Linked DNA regions of Homo sapiens: all the other regions are linked to region 1. The links come from fine-mapping of genetic effects on gene expression. A gene starts in region 1. Each other region holds a variant in brackets. All regions are shown on one strand. Distances are from middle to middle.

Region 1 (5,573 bases):
GGAATAAAATCCAAACTCTTTATTACGACCTACAAAATCTTTGTTTTGATCTACAGGTTCTTTTTCTCCACCCCCGCCCAAGACGGAGTTTTGCTCTGTTGCCCAGGCTGGAGTGCAGTGGCGCAATCTCGGCTCACCGCAACCTCCGCCTCCCAGGTTCAGGAAATTCTCCTGCCTCAGCCTCCCAAGTAGCTGGGACTACAGGCATGCACCACCACGCTCAGCTAATTTTTGTATTTTTAGTAGAGACAGGGTTTCACCATGTTGGTCAGGATGGTCTCGAACTCCTGACCTCGTGATCTGCCCGCCTTGGCCTCCCAAAGTGCTGGGATTACAGGCATGAACCACTGAGTCCGCCCTGATCCACAGATTCTTTTTTTTTTTTTTTTTTTTTGAGACGGAGTCTCGCTCTGTCGCCCAGACTGGAGTGCAGTGGCGTGACCTCGGCTCACTGCAAGTTCCACCTCCCGGGTTCACGCCATTCTCCTGCCTCAGCCTCTCCGAGTAGCTGGGACTACAGGTGCCCACCACCACGCCCAGCTAATTTTTTGTATTTGTAGTAGATATGGGGTTTCACCGTGGTCTCGATCTCCTAACCTCGTGATCCGCCCGCCTCGGCCTCCCAAAGTGCTGGGACTACAAGCGTGAGCCACCGCGCCCGGCCACAGATTCTTATATGTAATCTGGCCCCTCTCCATCTTCATAGCACTTACCACTACTGAAATTATTTTGTCCACTTGTTTGTTTACTCACTTATTGTCTGACTTTCCTCCTCTTTAAAATGTCATCTCTGAGGAGGGCAGAAACCGTGTCTGTCTTCACCACTAAAGCCCCAGTACTTGGAACGGTGCCTGGCACATAGTAAATGCTCACTACTGAATGAATGAATCTCCATCCCATAGAGGTGATTTGTATTTACAAGGGAGGACCACGAACTCCCCCAGCAAACCGTGAATGACACATTGGCATTTAACAGCCCGCACCTTTATTTATGATCCAAAGTCCTACTTTAAATCTGAGGAAGCTGCTGGTATCTCTGGACATTTTAATGGCACAAGAGATCAGTTATCACTTGGGGACACACTCCAGGAACTGGAGCCCAGTGGTTGTAGCAGGGAGCTAAGAGCCAAGGCTCCTGCGAACAGAACTTCAAGACAAACCATGACTTGCCTCCAGGTCCCTTACCCACACACCCTGTACCTCAATTTACCCAGCAGTTGGCCAGACATGTTCCTCTCAGTTCTGTGAGTGACAGGAGACAAAATAATTCACAGCTGGAGCATACTGAGATCCTCAGACAGGAGGTGGTGCAAGCCACACGTCTCATTATTCATAAAACTCTTGATTTGCGGCCAACACGGCCCCCGCCGCCTTCCCAGGGGCTAACCTGACAACAGGCACTGCTCAGACAAGTTCAGCTCACAAGGCAGAGGGAGGGATGGAGGGCCTAGCAGAGGCTGGGTGTCCAGACCTGAGTGTCTCGGTTACCAGGTTCCAAAAAAAGGAAGGTGGTTGGGGTGGGGTGATGAAAAGGAGGTGAGAGGTGCAGTTTGGGGCTCCAGGTGGTTAATTTTGCAGGTTCGTGCATACACGCCCGCCATCCAGGTGAGATATGTGCCCCCACCAGGTACCTTCCAGGAAGGCTCACCGGGGAGGGGTGGAATCGGGAGACGACAGTTCAATCAAACTACAGAGGGAGGAAGGGCGGCCCAGCGTTTAGTTTGGGGAAATATGGAGAGTAAGAGTCTCAGAGTGGGCGCAGGTGAGGGAAGAGGCAGGGGCCCAGAGGTCGGGAGGGCGGACGGGCGATGACAGGCACCCGGACGCGGTGAGGTGAGCAACAAGGTGGGCGGCGCGGACACCTGTGGAGGCGACCCCCGGGCGAAGAGTCAGGGAGGCGGGAGGTGGTCTGCGGCGAGAGGCGGCCAGGCCCAGACCAGGGCGCCGCGCCGCTGGGGCAGTCAGGGGTCCGAGCGGGGTCGGGGGCGCTCTCCGCGGCCCCTCCCCGGCAGACAAAGGGCTGGCCGCTCCCCCAAGCCCCGGCGCGGCGCGGCGCGGGCCCGGGCGGTGCAGGCGCGGCCCGGCCTCGGCGCTTACCTGGGCCGCCCGACCCGGCCGGGCCGGCAGGGGCAGCGGGTCCGGCGCGCAGCGCGCGGCGGCCTGTTCCGGGGCGTGCTCAGCCCGAGCAGCCGCTGCGGCGGCGGCAGTAGCAGCAGCAGGAGCGGCCGCCTCAGCCTCCGCCTCCCGCTCCGAGAGTCACCGCGGTGGGGAGGGAGGGAGGCGCCAGGCCGCCGGGGGAGGGACCGGCGGAGGGGGCGGCATCTGGCTCCGCGCGGGCTGCTGAGGCGCGGCGGCGGCAACGCCCCGGAGGGAGGCGGGCGCGTGGGGCCGGGCGCCGGGGCGGGGCCTGCGGGCGGGGCGGGGCCCGGGGCCGCGAATTGGTTAACTCAGCCTGTGGGCGGGGCTGCGCGGTGCGGGGCGGGGCCTTGTGGCGCATGTGAACGCTCATTGGGCCCTCCTGGAAGGGGGCGAGACCAGCGACATAGGGACGGGGCCATGCGGTGGGCGGGTGGAACACGGCGCCGGTAGTGAGTGGCCGAGTCCGCGCTGAGAGCAAAGGGGAGGAGCGGGCCGGGGGTGAGCAGGGAAGGCGGGTTGGGCGCGAGGAGGAGGCGGTGGCCTGGAGGAGGAGCCGGGTAAGGCTGAAGCTGGCGCTGCGGTAAAGCCACTCTGCGTGTCCCTATCTGCTCCAGGAGCACAGTGTTCCGGAAAAATAATGGCCTCTCCCACACACCGGTCTGTGTTTAAAAACGGGAGCAACAAGACGGGGCAGAATCCTTGGTGAGGCCAGTTTACCCAGAACCCCGGAAAATTCTGAAATGGACGAGGTTGCAGAACATTTAGAGGCGTGGTCTTCCTGCGTCGTTGAGCTGGGAACGTTGCTACCTCTGAGCTTGGGGCCTAACCTGGGATTAACCTAGCCCAGAGAGCCCAGGGATGGGCCTCCGTAGGTCCATTAAACTCAGAAGGTCGTGTGTACTGGTAGTGAGTGGATTTTTCGGGGGAAGGGTGCCCATGATTAAAATGTTTCTACAGAAAGTCTGGCTGTATTTGGAGAGGGTACAGGGAGAAGCAGCCCATTTTAGGTAAAATGCAAATTGCTTTTAACATCCGCCTTCCTTTTAAAGGGACCTGTATCTTTAAGTGTGGTCTCATTTTCAGCAGTTTAAATTATCAGTTACACAGTGTGACACTAACCCCAGTTCAGAAGCCCTCCTACCCTACTCCTCCCACAGCCTTTCTTTTTACACCTTTTCTGTACCATCCTCTTCCACTCCACATTTCTTCCCCTTCCCTATGCAAAAAGAATACGAAGTCCTTTTTTGTTTGTTCGTTTATAATATAATATCCACATTACTCTTTACTCATTTGGGGGGTTTTTTTGTTTTTGAGAGGGAGTCTCGCTCTGTCGCCCAGGCTCAGGTGCAGTGGCGCGATCTTGGCTCACCGCAACCTCCGCTTCCCGGGTTCAAGCGATTCTCCTGCCTCAGCCTCCTGAGTAGATGGGATTACCGGCATGCGCCCCGGCTAATTTTTGTATTTTTAGTAGAGACGGGTTTTCTCTATGTTGGCCAGGCTGGTCTCCAACTTCTGACCCCAAGTGGTCTGCCCGCCTCGGCCTCCCAAAATGCTAGGATTACAGGCCTGAGACACCGCACCCGGCCTGCTCACACTTTTTCATACTTAATAGGTCCCCGGCCGGGCGCAGTGGCTCATGCCTGTAATCTCAGCACTTTGGGAGGCCAAGGCAGACAGATCACCTGAGGTCGGGAGTTGGAGACCAGCCTGACCAACATGAAGAAACCCCGTCTCTACTAAAAATACAAAAATTAGCCGGGCGTGGTGGCGCATGCCTGTAATCCCAGCTACTCAGGAGACTGAGGCAGGAAAATCGCTTGAACCCGGGAGGCGAGGGTGCAGTGAGCCGAGATTGCGCCATTGCACTCCAGCCTGGGCAACAAGAGCGAAACTCTGTCTGAAAAAAAAAAAAAAAAAAAAATTGGTCCCCAAGTGGGTTTCTCCTACAGTGTCCCCACCTTCAGTAACTGGCACCACTCTCTACCCAGTTGCTTACACCAGACACTTAAATTGTACCGTTGACACCACTCTTTCCTTTATTCTTCATTTCCAGTCCATGTTGTTTCCAATTCTAAATGGTGTCCTTAATCTCTCCACCTCCTACCATCTCTACCCCTCTTTCCCAGTTTAACCTGCCACCAGCTATCACCTTGACTCCTGCAATAACCCTTCAAGCAGTCTCTCCTTTAGGCTCTCCTTACGCCCCCATTCACTGCCCACACAGCAACTAAAGGAAACTTCTTAAAATCTTGTCAGACCTGCGCTATTCAACGACTTCTCTTCATTTTCACGAGGAAGTTCAAAGTCCTTAGTGTGGCAACAAGGCCTTACAGGATCTGGCTACAGCCTGATCTTGAACCACTTTTGCCAACTGGGCTCTAGCCACATATGGGCCTTGTGCCTGTTCCTTGATCACAGGGAGCTCTTTTGTGCTTCAGGTCTTCTGATTGCGCTGTTCCCTTGGCCTCAATGGCTCTTTTCCGATTTCTCCCCACTTCACCTGCCTGAATACTTGGTCTACTTCCGGGAGACCTCTTAATGGATGCTAGCCCTAGTCCCACAGCATGGCTATAAACTCCAGGAGGGCAAGGACCATGCCACCAAGCACAATACCTGTATCCACAAATATTACTGCAGGAACAAACTGAATGTGTAAATACTCCATCCAGGACTTTCCCTTCCATCGGCCGGCCAGCCACTCCTACTCCCCGCCTCCGACCCCCAGGGCTATCAGCCTTCTCCTCCTTACTCTTCTCTCACTGCATTTATGGTTCGATATTTTCTCCTTTCAGCTCTGGAGAGGGCCTCCGTGTGGTCCCAGAACATATATTAGGTATCTTTTTTTTCTTTTTTTTGAGATGGGGTCTCAGTCTGTTGCCCAGGCTGGAGCACAGTGGTGCAATCTTGGCTCACTGAAACCTCCACCTCCTGGATTCAAGTGATTCTCCTGCTCAGCCTCCTGAGTAGCTGGGATTACAGGCACCCGCCACCATGCCCAGCTAATTTTTTGTATTTTTAGTAGAGACGGGGCTTCACCATGTTGGCCAGGCTGGTCTCGAACTCCTGACCTCAAGTGATCTGTTGGCCTCAGCCTCCCAAAGTGCTGGGACTACAGCTGTGAGCCACCATGCTGGCCTATTATGTATCTTTAAATAGTTGCTTTCTGGAGCAAAAAAAGAAAAAAAACACTATTTTTTTTCTCTTTTTTTTCTTTCTTTTTTTTGAGATGAAGTCTCATTGTCGCCCAGGCTAGACTGCAGTGGTGTGATCTTGGCTCACTGCAGCCTCCGCCTCCTGTGTTCAAGTGATTCTCCTGCCTCAGCCTTCCTAGTAGCTGGGATTACAGGCATGCGCCACCACGCCCAGCTAATTTTTGTATTTTTAGTAGAGACAGGGTTTCACCATATTGGCCAGGCTGGTGTCAAACTCCTGAT
Region 2 (5,573 bases), 52 kb before region 1:
GATAAATGACCTAAATACAAGAGATAAAGTTATAAAAATCTTGGAAGAAAATATAGAAACAAATTTTTATGACCTTGGATTAGGAAATGCTTTTTTTTTTTTTTTTTTCCTGGACAGGGTCTTGCTCTGTCACGCAGGCTAGAGTGCAGTGGTACAATCAGCACTCAAAGCAGCCTTGACCTTCTGGACTCAATTGATTCTCTCACCTCAGCCTCCTGAGGAGCTGGGACCACAGGCCCACACTGCTACACTCGGCTAATTAATTTTTTTTTGGCCAAGGTGGGCAGATCACTTGAAGTCAGGAGTTTGAGACCAGCCTGATCAACATGGTGAAACCCCATCTCTACTAAAAATATCAAAAAGTTAGCTGGGCGTGGTGGCACATGCCTGTAGTCCCAGCTACTCGGGAAGCTGAGGCACGAGAATTGTTTGAACCCAGGAGCTGGAGGTTGCAGTGAGCTGAGATCGCACCACTGCATTCTAGTCTGGGCGACAGAGTGAGACTCTGTCTCAAAAAAAAAATAAGAAATAAATAAATAAAAGAAAAATTGTTTTGACAGATGGGGTATCTTCCTATGTTGCCCAGGCTGGTCTTGAACTCCTGGGCTCAAGCCATCCTCTTGCCTCTGCCATGTAAAGTACTGGGATTACAGGAATGAGCCTCCACGCCTGGCAGGAAATGGTTTCTTAGTTATGATATCTAAAGCACAAGCAACAGAAAAAAATAAATAAATAAAGAGAACTTTATCAAGATTAAAAACTTTTCTGTTTCAAAAGACACCATCGAGAATGTGAAAAGACAACACACAGAATGAAAGAAAATGTTGACAAATCATATATCTGGTAAGGGACTATTACGCAAAATACGTAAAAAATTCTTTTTTTTTTTTTTTTTGAGAGGGAGTCTCGCTCTGTTGCCCAGGCTGGAGTGCAGTGGCGTGATCTCAATCTCACCACAATCTCCGCCTCCCGCATTCAAGCGATTCTCCTGCCTCAGCCTCCAGAGTACCTGGGATTACAGTCGCCAGCCACCATGCCCGGCTAATTTTTGTATTTTTAGTAGAGACGGGGTTTCACCATGTTGGCCAGGCGGGTCTCAAACTCCTGACCTTGGGTGATCCACCTGCCTCAGCCTCCCAAAGTGTTGGGATTAAAGGCATGAGCTACCATGCCTAGTCCATAAAGAACTCTTAAAACTCAGTAATAGGCTGGGTGCAGTGGCTCACGCCTGTAATTCCAGCATTTTGAGAGGCCGAGATGGGGGATCACCTGAGGTCAGGAGTTCGAGACCAGTCTGGCCAACATGGTGAAACCCAGTCTCTACTAAAAATAAAAAATTAGCAGGGTGTGGTGGCGGGCACCTGTAGTCCCAGCTACTCGGGAGGTTGAGGCAGGAGAATCGCTTGAACCCGGGAGGCAGAGGTTGCAGTGAGCCAAGATCACGCCACTGCACTCCAGCCCGGGTGACAGAGTGAGATGCCATCTCAAAAACAAAACAAAACAAAACAAAAAAAACCCTCAATAATAAAAAAGTGGAGAAAACCCCAATTTAAAAAAATGGGTGGCTGGGCGCGGTGGCTCACGCCTGTAATCCCAGCACTTTGGGGGGCCAAGATGGGCAGATCACAAGGTCAGGAGATCAAGACCATCCTGGCTAACACGGTGAAACCCTGTCTTTACTAAAAATACAAAAAATTAGCCGGGTGTGGTGGCGGGCGCCTGTAGTCCCGGGAGGGACTGTTGTACTCGGGAGGCTGAGGCAGGAGAATGGCGTGAACCCGGGAGGCAGAGCTTGTAGTGAGCTGAGATAGCACCGCTGCACTCCAGCCTGGGTGACAGAATGAGACCCTGTCTCAAAAAAAAAAAAAAAAAGGCCAGGCACAGTGGCTCACGCCTGTAATCTCTGCACTTTGTCTGCACTTTGGGAGGCCGAGGCGGGCAGATCACCTGAGGTCAGGAGTTTGAGACCAGCCTATCCAACGTGGTGAAACCCCGTATCTACTAAAAATACAAACATTAGCCAGATGTGGTGGTGCGCTCCTGTAGTCCCAGCTACTGGGGAGGCTGAGGCAAGAGAATCTCTTGAACCCAGGAGGTGGAGGCTGCAGTGAGCTGAGATCACGCCATTGCACTCCAGCATGGACGACAGACCAAGATTCCGTCTCAAAAACAATAACAACAACAACAACAAAAATCCAAAACTATGATAAACCATTTCACATCTACTAGAATCAAAAAGACAGATGAGAACAAGTGTTGGCCAGGTTGTGGAGCAATTGGAACCCTCATCCATTCATTGCTGGTGGGAGTGTCAGGTGGTGCAGCTGCCAAGCCTGCTCCACAGTCTTTCCCATCTCAGCTGATGGCACCTCCATCCTCCTGTTGCTCAGGTCAGAAGTCCTGGGGTCTTCCCAACCCCTCTGTCATACATAAACTCCACACACAATGCATCAGCAAATCCCATTGACTCTACTTCGCTACTTATAAGG[T/C]AGATGCTAAGTACATCACCACTTCTGCCACCACCACCCTGGTCGGGGGTGGGTGGACTCCTGAATCCCCGCTTGCCTTGACCTCCTCTCGCTGGCCCCTGATGGTCCATTCTCCACATAACTGCCAGGGGGAAGTTGTTAGAAACCTAAGTCAGCTCCTACCATGCCTTTGCTCAAAACCCTCCAGAAGCTTCTACTGCAAGACTGCTCATCATACTCAAGGCCAACGCCCACCTCCTCACTGTGGCCTGCAGGACCCACACACGCTGGTCTCTGACTGCCACTTCGCCTCCCTTTACAACACACCTCTCACCACTCACTGCGCCAGCTACATGGGCCCCTGGCCATCCTTCAAGCACAAGTCCTTACACCCCAGGGCCTTTGCACCTGCCGCTTCTGTTGCCTTGATGTTCTTCTCCAAGTTTATCCCATGGTTCTTGCACTTCATAGAGGCCCTCCCTGAACACAACTTCTAAAATGGCCCTTGTGTCTCAATACTTCAGGTGAATGAGGTCTTCAGCACCCTCAGTGCTACCCACAGAGCTCTATATTGAGCTGACCTTCCTTTCTCCACTGGAACGTACATCTCATGTCATCAGGGACTTTGTTTTGTTCACTGACATAGTCACAGTATCTGGGCAAGTACCTGGGACACAGGATGAATCTTTACTTTACAGATGAGGAAACTGAAACTCAGACAGACAAAGCAACTCAGTGAATCAGAGGCAGAGAGAAGACCCAGATCCAGACTCCAAAGCCCATGCCTTCACCCTAGAAGGAGAAAGGAAACCACAGACCTCTCCAGTCACCCACAGCACTAAGGCTCAACTGGCCTCCTAGCATCTTAGTTCCATCTTAGTTCCATCAGAATGGAACTAAGAACCAGGGCTTAAAAACACCACCAAAGCAGCCCAGGGACACCTTGGAGATAATTCAACATGGAACCCAGAGTGCCAACCTGGGAACAGCCCTGGCCCTGGCCCCCTGCCCCCAACTGGTCCCCACTCCTATCTCCCCTGAGCCCTGCTCCCTATCTCTGCCTACTGCCCTACCAGACACCTCACTAGTCCCCTGGCTCACCTGCCCTGGAAACCAGGGCCAGGACACTGGCAAAGGCGCAGCTTTCTAAACCAGGACAGGGTATCCAGCAGGCCCTCCCATCCTATGCCCAATGCCAGCTTTGCCCCTTTAGTGGAGTCCAGTCAATTGACTGGGGAGAAAAAATGACAAATATGCAGGAGCTTAGAAAAGGGAAGCTGGCCCCTAGCCGGGGGCGGGAGAGAGACAATGGGAGCTCAGGATGAACTCCCACCAGCATGCTGGAACCAGCTCTGCTCCCGCCAACACTCACCCTAGGCCTGGCCTGGCTTACTCAGGCTTTTGGAGAAAGCCTCCTGGGGGCCTCTGACAACTCCCAAAGTCTGCTGAGAATCCCTCTTGCTATTTGAGACTCTTAAGCTGAAGTCTTTCAAAGGTCCTTTCCTGAATATACTGGGCAGCTCGATGCATTTCCTGAACTGCCAGGGCAGGCTGCTATTGGCCCTGCAGGATTATAGCTGGGTCAGCAATAGTGGATGAAAGAGAGGAGCATGGAGATTCTAAAGCCCCAAGGCCAATCCACAGAGCAAGGGCATTTCACAGACCTGGCTGGGGAAATCCTGGCGGAGCCTAGTGCTGCACTAGCTCCTAATTTGCAAACTTGGAAACAGGCTGGTCCCAGGCCACATGGGTGAAATGTAGCAGACAAAGGCCTGTGACCCTGATCTGTAGACCCTGTTCCCACCTCCAGGGTGCCTCCCTGGACTATCCAACATGGTGGGGTCTGCTTTCACAGCAAAGAGGAGGGCTTGGTCCTGGCTTCATTTCACCAAAGCATCTGGGTGTGGGAGGGACAAGCTGACCTCTTACCCCAGGGAACTTCTCCAGATCCAGGATCCTGCAAAGTCCAACTCAGCACAGGTGCTCAGAGGTGGCCAGGGAGAAAGAAAACAGACCTGAGCACAAGTCCTTCCTCCAAAATTGATGAGGGTACAAAAAAGCCTGGCTAAACTCCCAAAGGCCGCAGGCCCTGCAGGCTCCACAGACCAGGCAGGGCACAGCCCTGTACAATGTCACTGGAGAAAAAGGGGAACTTCAGTCACAGATGGACACTCCCGCATCACCCAATTCAGAACCAGGATTCTAGGCCGGGTGTGGTGGCTCATGCCTGTAATCCCAGCAATTTAAGATGCTGAGGCGGGTGGATCACCTGAGGTCAGGAGTTCAAGACCAGCCTGGCCAACATGGTGAAACCCCGTCTCTACTAAAAAAAAAAAAAAAAAAAAAAAAAACAAAACTTAGCTGGGCGTAGTGGCATATGCCTGTAGTCCCAGCTACTTGGGAAGCTGAGGCAGGAGAGTCGCTTGAACCTGGGAGGCGGAGGTTGCAGTGAGCCGAGATCACACCACTGCATTCTGCATTCTGGCATGGGCAACAGAGCAAGACTTCATCTCTCAAAAAAAAAAAAAAAAAGAAAAAAGAATCAGGATTCTTCCAGGCCCAGCTCCCCACAACCATGTGCCCTGGGGACAGGGAGCTTCTGCCACATCATCCTGCAAGACCACTGAAATCCTCACCACCCCTCTTCCTTGCTGGCCAGAACTTCCCAGGACGGTGTCAGACATTCTGGGGTCAGGTACCTGGAGGCCTCCTGAACTCCTCAGGAGCCTTACTCCTCCTAAAGAGGGTAAAAAAGTGGGGCGTGAAAATTCAGAAATGTGACCTGAAATCTTCAGGGTCTGCAAATTCTCATGGCTGATGCGGGGAGCTCCCTTTGTGAGTCACCATCAGCAGAGGGAGCTAACTTTGGCTAAGTGCTTCACAACTGTCCAGGGAATGCCACCTGGCAAGCCCAGGGCCCATCCTTGACACACATGGCAGACCAGGCTGGAGAGGGAATGCGACCACATGCTCCCAAGTGTCCAGGACAACGCCCACTCTGTGTCTCATCCTCTTCTCTGACCATATGGTTTTTGGTTGTGGTACCTTTTCCTCCTCCCACGAGCTCATTAATCTTGCTATTAATACCAACTAGCATCTGCTACC
Region 3 (5,573 bases), 34 kb before region 1:
AGGGCCACAGGTGCACATCACCACGCTTGGCTAATTTAAAAACATTTTTTTGTAGAGACAGGGTCTTGCTATGTTGCCCAGGCTGGTCTCAAACTCCTGGGCTCAAGTGATCCTCCCACCTCATCCTCCCCAAAACAGATGATATCACTCCTACCTTAAACCTACCTGAGAATGCATCTCATAATCCTTGCCAAGACCCTGCCAGGGCTCCGCTGTCAGCCCTGCCTCCCTCTCCAGCCTGTCTCTTCTTCCTCTTCCCCTTGCTCTGCCTTCCTGGCACTCGTCCGTTCTAGAACATGCGGAGAAGCTCTTTCCCTCTGGCAGCCTTTGTACTGGGTGTCCCCTAAGCCAGGAACTGGCTTCTTTCCATCCTTTGTCTTGGTGTAAAGGCACCTTCCTAGGGAAGCCTTCCCTGGCAGTTGCTCTGGTGCCCAGGAGTACAGTGGTATGATCAGAACTCACTGCAGCCCTGAACTCCTGGGCTTAAGCGATCCTCCTGCCTCAGCCTCCTAACTAGCTGGGACCACAGAAGCATGCCACAACACCCTGCCACTTTTAAATTTTTTTGTAGAGGTCTTGTTATGTTGCACAGCCAGGTTGGTCTCAAATTCCTGGTCTCAAGCAATCCTCCTGCCTTGGTCTCCCAAAATATTGGAATTAACAGGCATGAGCCACCATGCCCGCCTGTCCTGATTTTCTGAAAGTGCCCTGTTGGAGAACTTGCTTATTGTCTCTGCCCACTGCCCACTGCCAAGGCCAGGGCCCCCTCTGCTGTGCTCACCCCTGTCCTCCGGGAGACTAGCACTTGGCAGGCACTTAATAAATACTGCCCGCTTGGCTAAATGGAATAGTGAAACAGCCTGTGGTGTCTGAGCTTCTCCCACTCTGCAATATCCACACCCATCTAGGCCCAAATGTCATTGTGTTAAGAGACCAAGTACCTAACCCAGTCTCCCATAACCAAATTTAGCTTTTCCAAAGGACTCACACTTTCAAAGTAGTGGGCCTTGGGCTATTGTGTTCTCCAAAGAACATCTGAAATGCTCCGTAAAGCCTTTGAGCTGGGAGTTAGGGCTTCCAAGAGTAAAAACCTTCCAATTCTGTCCTGTGCCTAAGGGCTAGTTTTCATTTGCTCTCTCCTGGTGAGAGACAGGGTGAAATACAAGGACCTGGCCACTAGGTGTCGCCAAACACAAAAGCGCCAGCGTTGCTTCCTCCCCACCCCCAGCAGGTTCTCCCAGGGCCCCAGACCACCCGGTTCGAGCCGACCAGTCCTTAGCCGACGTGGGAAGCAGATCACTCCTGCTCTGGCTCTCCCTATTCCAATCGTACTATCACAAACCACACTCCAGCCCCGGGTCCCAGGGCAAGATCTATTTATTCATTCAGAGAGCCACCCCTGCCCAGGGAAGGACTGGTGTCTGGTTTTTGCCGCCGCATCCACCCAGGAGCCAGTGGTCCAGGTACACAGTAGGTGCTTCCCAGAGGAGCGTCAGTTCCATATCAAAGACTGCTTCCATCACAGACCGCCTCCATGGGGCCGGCTTTACAGAATGTTGCCCTGTCCAACAAGCCTTCTATGAACAGCTCGCACTGATAGGTGCCGCCCCGTCTTCCCGGCTGGTGCAGCCTCGCCGTCCCGGGGACACCTCACACTGGGATTCCTAGGGCTTGGGCTGCCCAGCTGTGGGCCTGCGGTGTCGTCTGCGCCTGCATTTTGGAGCCAGGCTACTCCTGCTTCAACTCACTTCCCTGCAAGAGACAGTTCTTCTCGCTACAGAGAAGACCCTTGACTTGTCTTTTCTAAAAAGCGTGGTCATGGAGAATTCTTCCAGCTCTAGTTTGAGCTGATTCCGCCCTGCTGCCTAACAAGAGGGCACACTCAGGGCTGGATCTGGAGCAGAAATGCAGCCAGGAGCACATGTTCCCACCCTTCCCATTCCAACCCAAACAGAAACACCGTGACTGGCTTACATAATTCTCTCCTCTGCAGTAAGGGTGTCAGTGTGGAGCAAACTCATAATTGGAGAGAATAAATCATAATCAACCCAAACAATACAGACATTTCAGTCATGGTGCTCAACGAGTATATTAAAGTATGTCTCTGTTTGTTGCCTATACAAGCAAACGTGCTATTATATTTTTATCACAATTCTGACAAGCATCAGATTCATTTCACTTGAGAAATCTTATTTTCCCCTGTAGGGATCAAAAACTGGTCTCCATTAAACTATGTTTAAATTACATAAACTAAAACTGCAACTAAATTAGACACACTAATTATTCATCCAGTCCTTGAACGTGAGAACCAAAAGTAATGATGGTTCTCAATTATGGTCTCTTGGCTATTCCCATAAACATTCCAGCGTCTAAAATGGGGTGGCGCTTCCACTCCAAATCCTAAGAAAATTTCTATTAGCTGCCCAAGTCAGAGGTAAGCCAAAAAAAGGAAAATGAAAAGAAACAGGCCAGGCACAGTGGCTCATGCCTGTAATCCCAGCACTTTAGGAGGCCGAGGCGGGCAGATCACCTGAGGTTAAGAGTTTGAGACTAGCCTGGCCAACATGGTGAAACCCAGTCTCTATAAAAAATACAAAAAATTAGCTGGGCGAGGTGGCAGACACCTGTAATCCCAGCTACTCGGAGACCGAGGCAGGAGAATCGCTTGGACCTGGGAGGCGGCAGTTGCCTGGAGCCAAGATCATGCCACTGCACTCCAACCTGAGCGACAGAGTGAGACTCCATTTCAAAAAACAAAAACAATAAAACAGAAAAGAAACAACAGGCAACTATTAACTATCCAAATGAATGGTGAAGGGACAGGTCCATGGTTATTTATTATGTAGTAGGCAACCACACATTCTGCAAAAAGTGGGTGCCATCCCAGAAAATGACATCTGATTGGGGCAAATACAATGAAAAGACATTAAGGTACATACCTTCAATTTAGACACAGAGACACACTCCTGCTATACATACACACACACACACACACACACACACACACACACACACACACACAGTTCAGAGCTGCCTCTCTGTTGAAGGAAGCTTGGCTGGTCAGGAAAGGATGGTGAGGAAGTGGCTCCTGACCACTGTGAAAGGTCCACACAA[C/T]GGGAGAACTGGCCTTGGCTCCACAGGCCACAACACGTTCTCAGGGAAACACCCAAGGGCATCTGTAAGAGGCACGCTCAGATGCCACACTTCTTCCCAGCCTTTGCAGGGACCTAATCTCGACCACCATGTAATCTCCAGCATTTAAGCAGTTGATCTCACTTTAGAAGAATTAGGAGGTAGTGCAAGAGGGACCTGGAGAACAAGACTGCTGAAAGTCACATGCGGCAGTTGGAGGCTGGACGGCTGTGGCTCCCTGTATGGGTCTCTGTCTGGGAAATGCAACCCATTCTAATAAAGAGCTTTGAAAGCTGGCCTCGCTTTGACAGGCACGAGTGGCCCTGAATACAAACACAGCCACCTGCACTCCTTTTTATTTTTAAACTGGAAGCTAATGCTCTTGAACATCCACATTTATCTATGTTAGAATATTCACTTATACCCAGGGCGGTCTTGCACCTGCTAGGAAGATGTCAAGTAAGCTCAGGCGAGGCCAGGGAGCAAAGCTGCTCCTTCAGACACATGAGCTGCCTCCAGCCCCTGCACTCGTCTTTTGTTTTGTCCATTTTAAAACACATTGTGATAGATTCTAATACATTTAAAAATGTACAATTTACACTTTCATGATGTTTACATTGCAAAAAAATACAATGCCATAGAATTGGTGGTTCCTAGAGCTTATATGAAATATTATCCAGAATCTGTACATGTCTTAGCCTAAAAGAAATCAGCAGCACCCTAACATTCTCCAGAAGACCCAACACATCTGGAGAAATGAGCATCATTGGGGCTCACGGTGAAAGGTAACAGATGAGCTAACTTCATGATCAGCCCTGGAGCCTGGCGTCCAATAGGACTCCTCACCCCCCACCCCACACTACTGTATGGCCACATTACAGAGTCCTTCCCCTGGGGGCCTTACCTGCTTCTGGAAATTAACTTCAGGCAAACAGGTGCTCAACTGTGAGGGGAGGGCTGTGGCTGGGCAGAAGTAGGAAGGTGCCGCCCTGCAGAAACACAGAACACAGGTTGTGGGAGGAGTCGGGAGGGCCCAGGCAGCTGCCAGGGCTGGGCCTGGAGCACACGCCCCATGCTGAGGATGCACAACCGCTGGCGGGAAGCTCATGGAGCTGGGTTCTGCCGTGGTCCAGAAATACCTGTGTGTCTGGCAAGCCCAGGAAACCTGCACCCACACCTCTGGGATAAATAAGGTGCTGAAGGCAGCTCAGCTGGCCTGGCATTTCCGGCCGAAGCAGGTCAGTCCGCTCAACACCACACCCCCTGCTCCCCTTGGCTTAGTCACCAAGTCTAATTGAGACGCTGTGTTCAGAGACACTGTGGACCAGAATGCATCACTCCAGGAAAGTTGATGGCCAAGTTCTGCACCTGCACAAGAGAATGCCCCACCTACCAAATCTAACATGACAAGTGAGGCACAGGTAGCTCAGCACCCCGCAGCCTCTGTGCTCAGTGCATGTATATGTGTCTGTGTGCTTCAGTTGTGCACCTAAACATCAACTAACACACATGCTAGAAACACACGAAAAGCACAGTCGCAGCTTGTTCACAGACCTACAGCCTAGCCACATGTCTACGTGCCCCCAATACACCTCTGGCAGGAATCTCAGAACACTGCCTTCTTTTCTTCTGCCTCCTACACAGGAGCTCATCGTTCAGGTCACCTGCACAGGTTAATGGAGCAAGAGCATGGATTGCCGAGTGGGCGGAGACACAGGAGAAGCAGGAGGCTGTGAGGGGCGCTGGGAGCCTTGCCCACCCGCTCCAGCTGCACCACCTGCTCTGCTGGGGTGCAAGACCCAGTACCTCACATCTCCAAGGCATGTATCAATCATCCCAATAAATGGTGAGGGCACAGGTCTGTGGTTATATATTATGCGGTAGACAACCACGTTCTGTAAAAGGTGCGTAATTTTGCCAGGCGCGGTGGCTCACACCTGTAATCCCAGCACTTTGGGAGGCCGAGACAGGTGGATCACAAGGTCAGGCGTTCGAGACCAGCCTGGCCAACATAGTGAAACCCTGTATCTACTAAAAATACAAAAAATTAGCTGGACGTGGTGGCGGGCGCCTGTAATCCCAGCTACTTGGGAGGCTGAGGCAGGAGAATCGGTTGAACCTGGGAGGCAGAGTTTGCAGTGAGCTGACATCGCGCCACTACACTCTAGCCTGGGGAACAGTGTGAGACTCCATCTCAAAAAAAAAAATGGGTGCTTTTACACCCACTTTTACTACCCACTCTTCTACTACCACAGGGCTCTCCGCTGTCAGCCCTGTAGTGGGGGAAAGGCTGCCAGACAACACTTTGAGAAACTGGTTCTGAGAGAGGTGCGGGGCCAATGACAGCTTGGAAACCCACTGTCTTCAATGAATTCTGAAAAGAAAGTTGCTCGATGACCCAAGGGGCTGAGGAAGACATGTTTTCCAGAGAAAGCGGGATT

Alleles and levels. Alleles are on the strand shown, and positions count from the first base shown. SD is a standard deviation of normalised expression in the study named. Not every link is listed here.
With allele C in place of T in region 3, the expression in spleen of the gene that starts at base 2,272 in region 1 is lower (small effect, 0.33 SD a copy in GTEx).

Evidence for each region.
Region 2: its variant is fine-mapped to the expression of CTNNBIP1 in whole blood (INTERVAL, PIP above 0.99).
Region 3: its variant is fine-mapped to the expression of CTNNBIP1 in spleen (GTEx, PIP above 0.99).

Annotation. Positions count from the first base shown.
Region 1 is chr1:9,907,998-9,913,570 of GRCh38, forward strand. It overlaps CTNNBIP1 (catenin beta interacting protein 1), which reads right to left and starts at 2,272. Exons shown (of 6, transcript NM_020248.3): 1 at 2,098-2,272. RefSeq lists silencers at 1,820-1,879, 2,050-2,109, 2,120-2,719 and enhancers at 2,867-3,540, 3,541-4,213.
Region 2 is chr1:9,855,636-9,861,208 of GRCh38, forward strand. The region is part of intron 5 of CTNNBIP1 (catenin beta interacting protein 1); the gene reads right to left. Among named protein-coding and RNA genes, the nearest start is that of CTNNBIP1-AS1, 10 kb to the left of the region's middle. RefSeq lists an enhancer at 4,008-4,902. The variant T/C (reference allele first, on the strand shown) is at 2,490.
Region 3 is chr1:9,873,869-9,879,441 of GRCh38, forward strand. CTNNBIP1 (catenin beta interacting protein 1) reads right to left here. Exons shown (of 6, transcript NM_020248.3): 3 at 4,037-4,121. Among named protein-coding and RNA genes, the nearest start is that of CTNNBIP1-AS1, 28 kb to the left of the region's middle. RefSeq lists a silencer at 1,088-1,287. The variant C/T (reference allele first, on the strand shown) is at 3,115.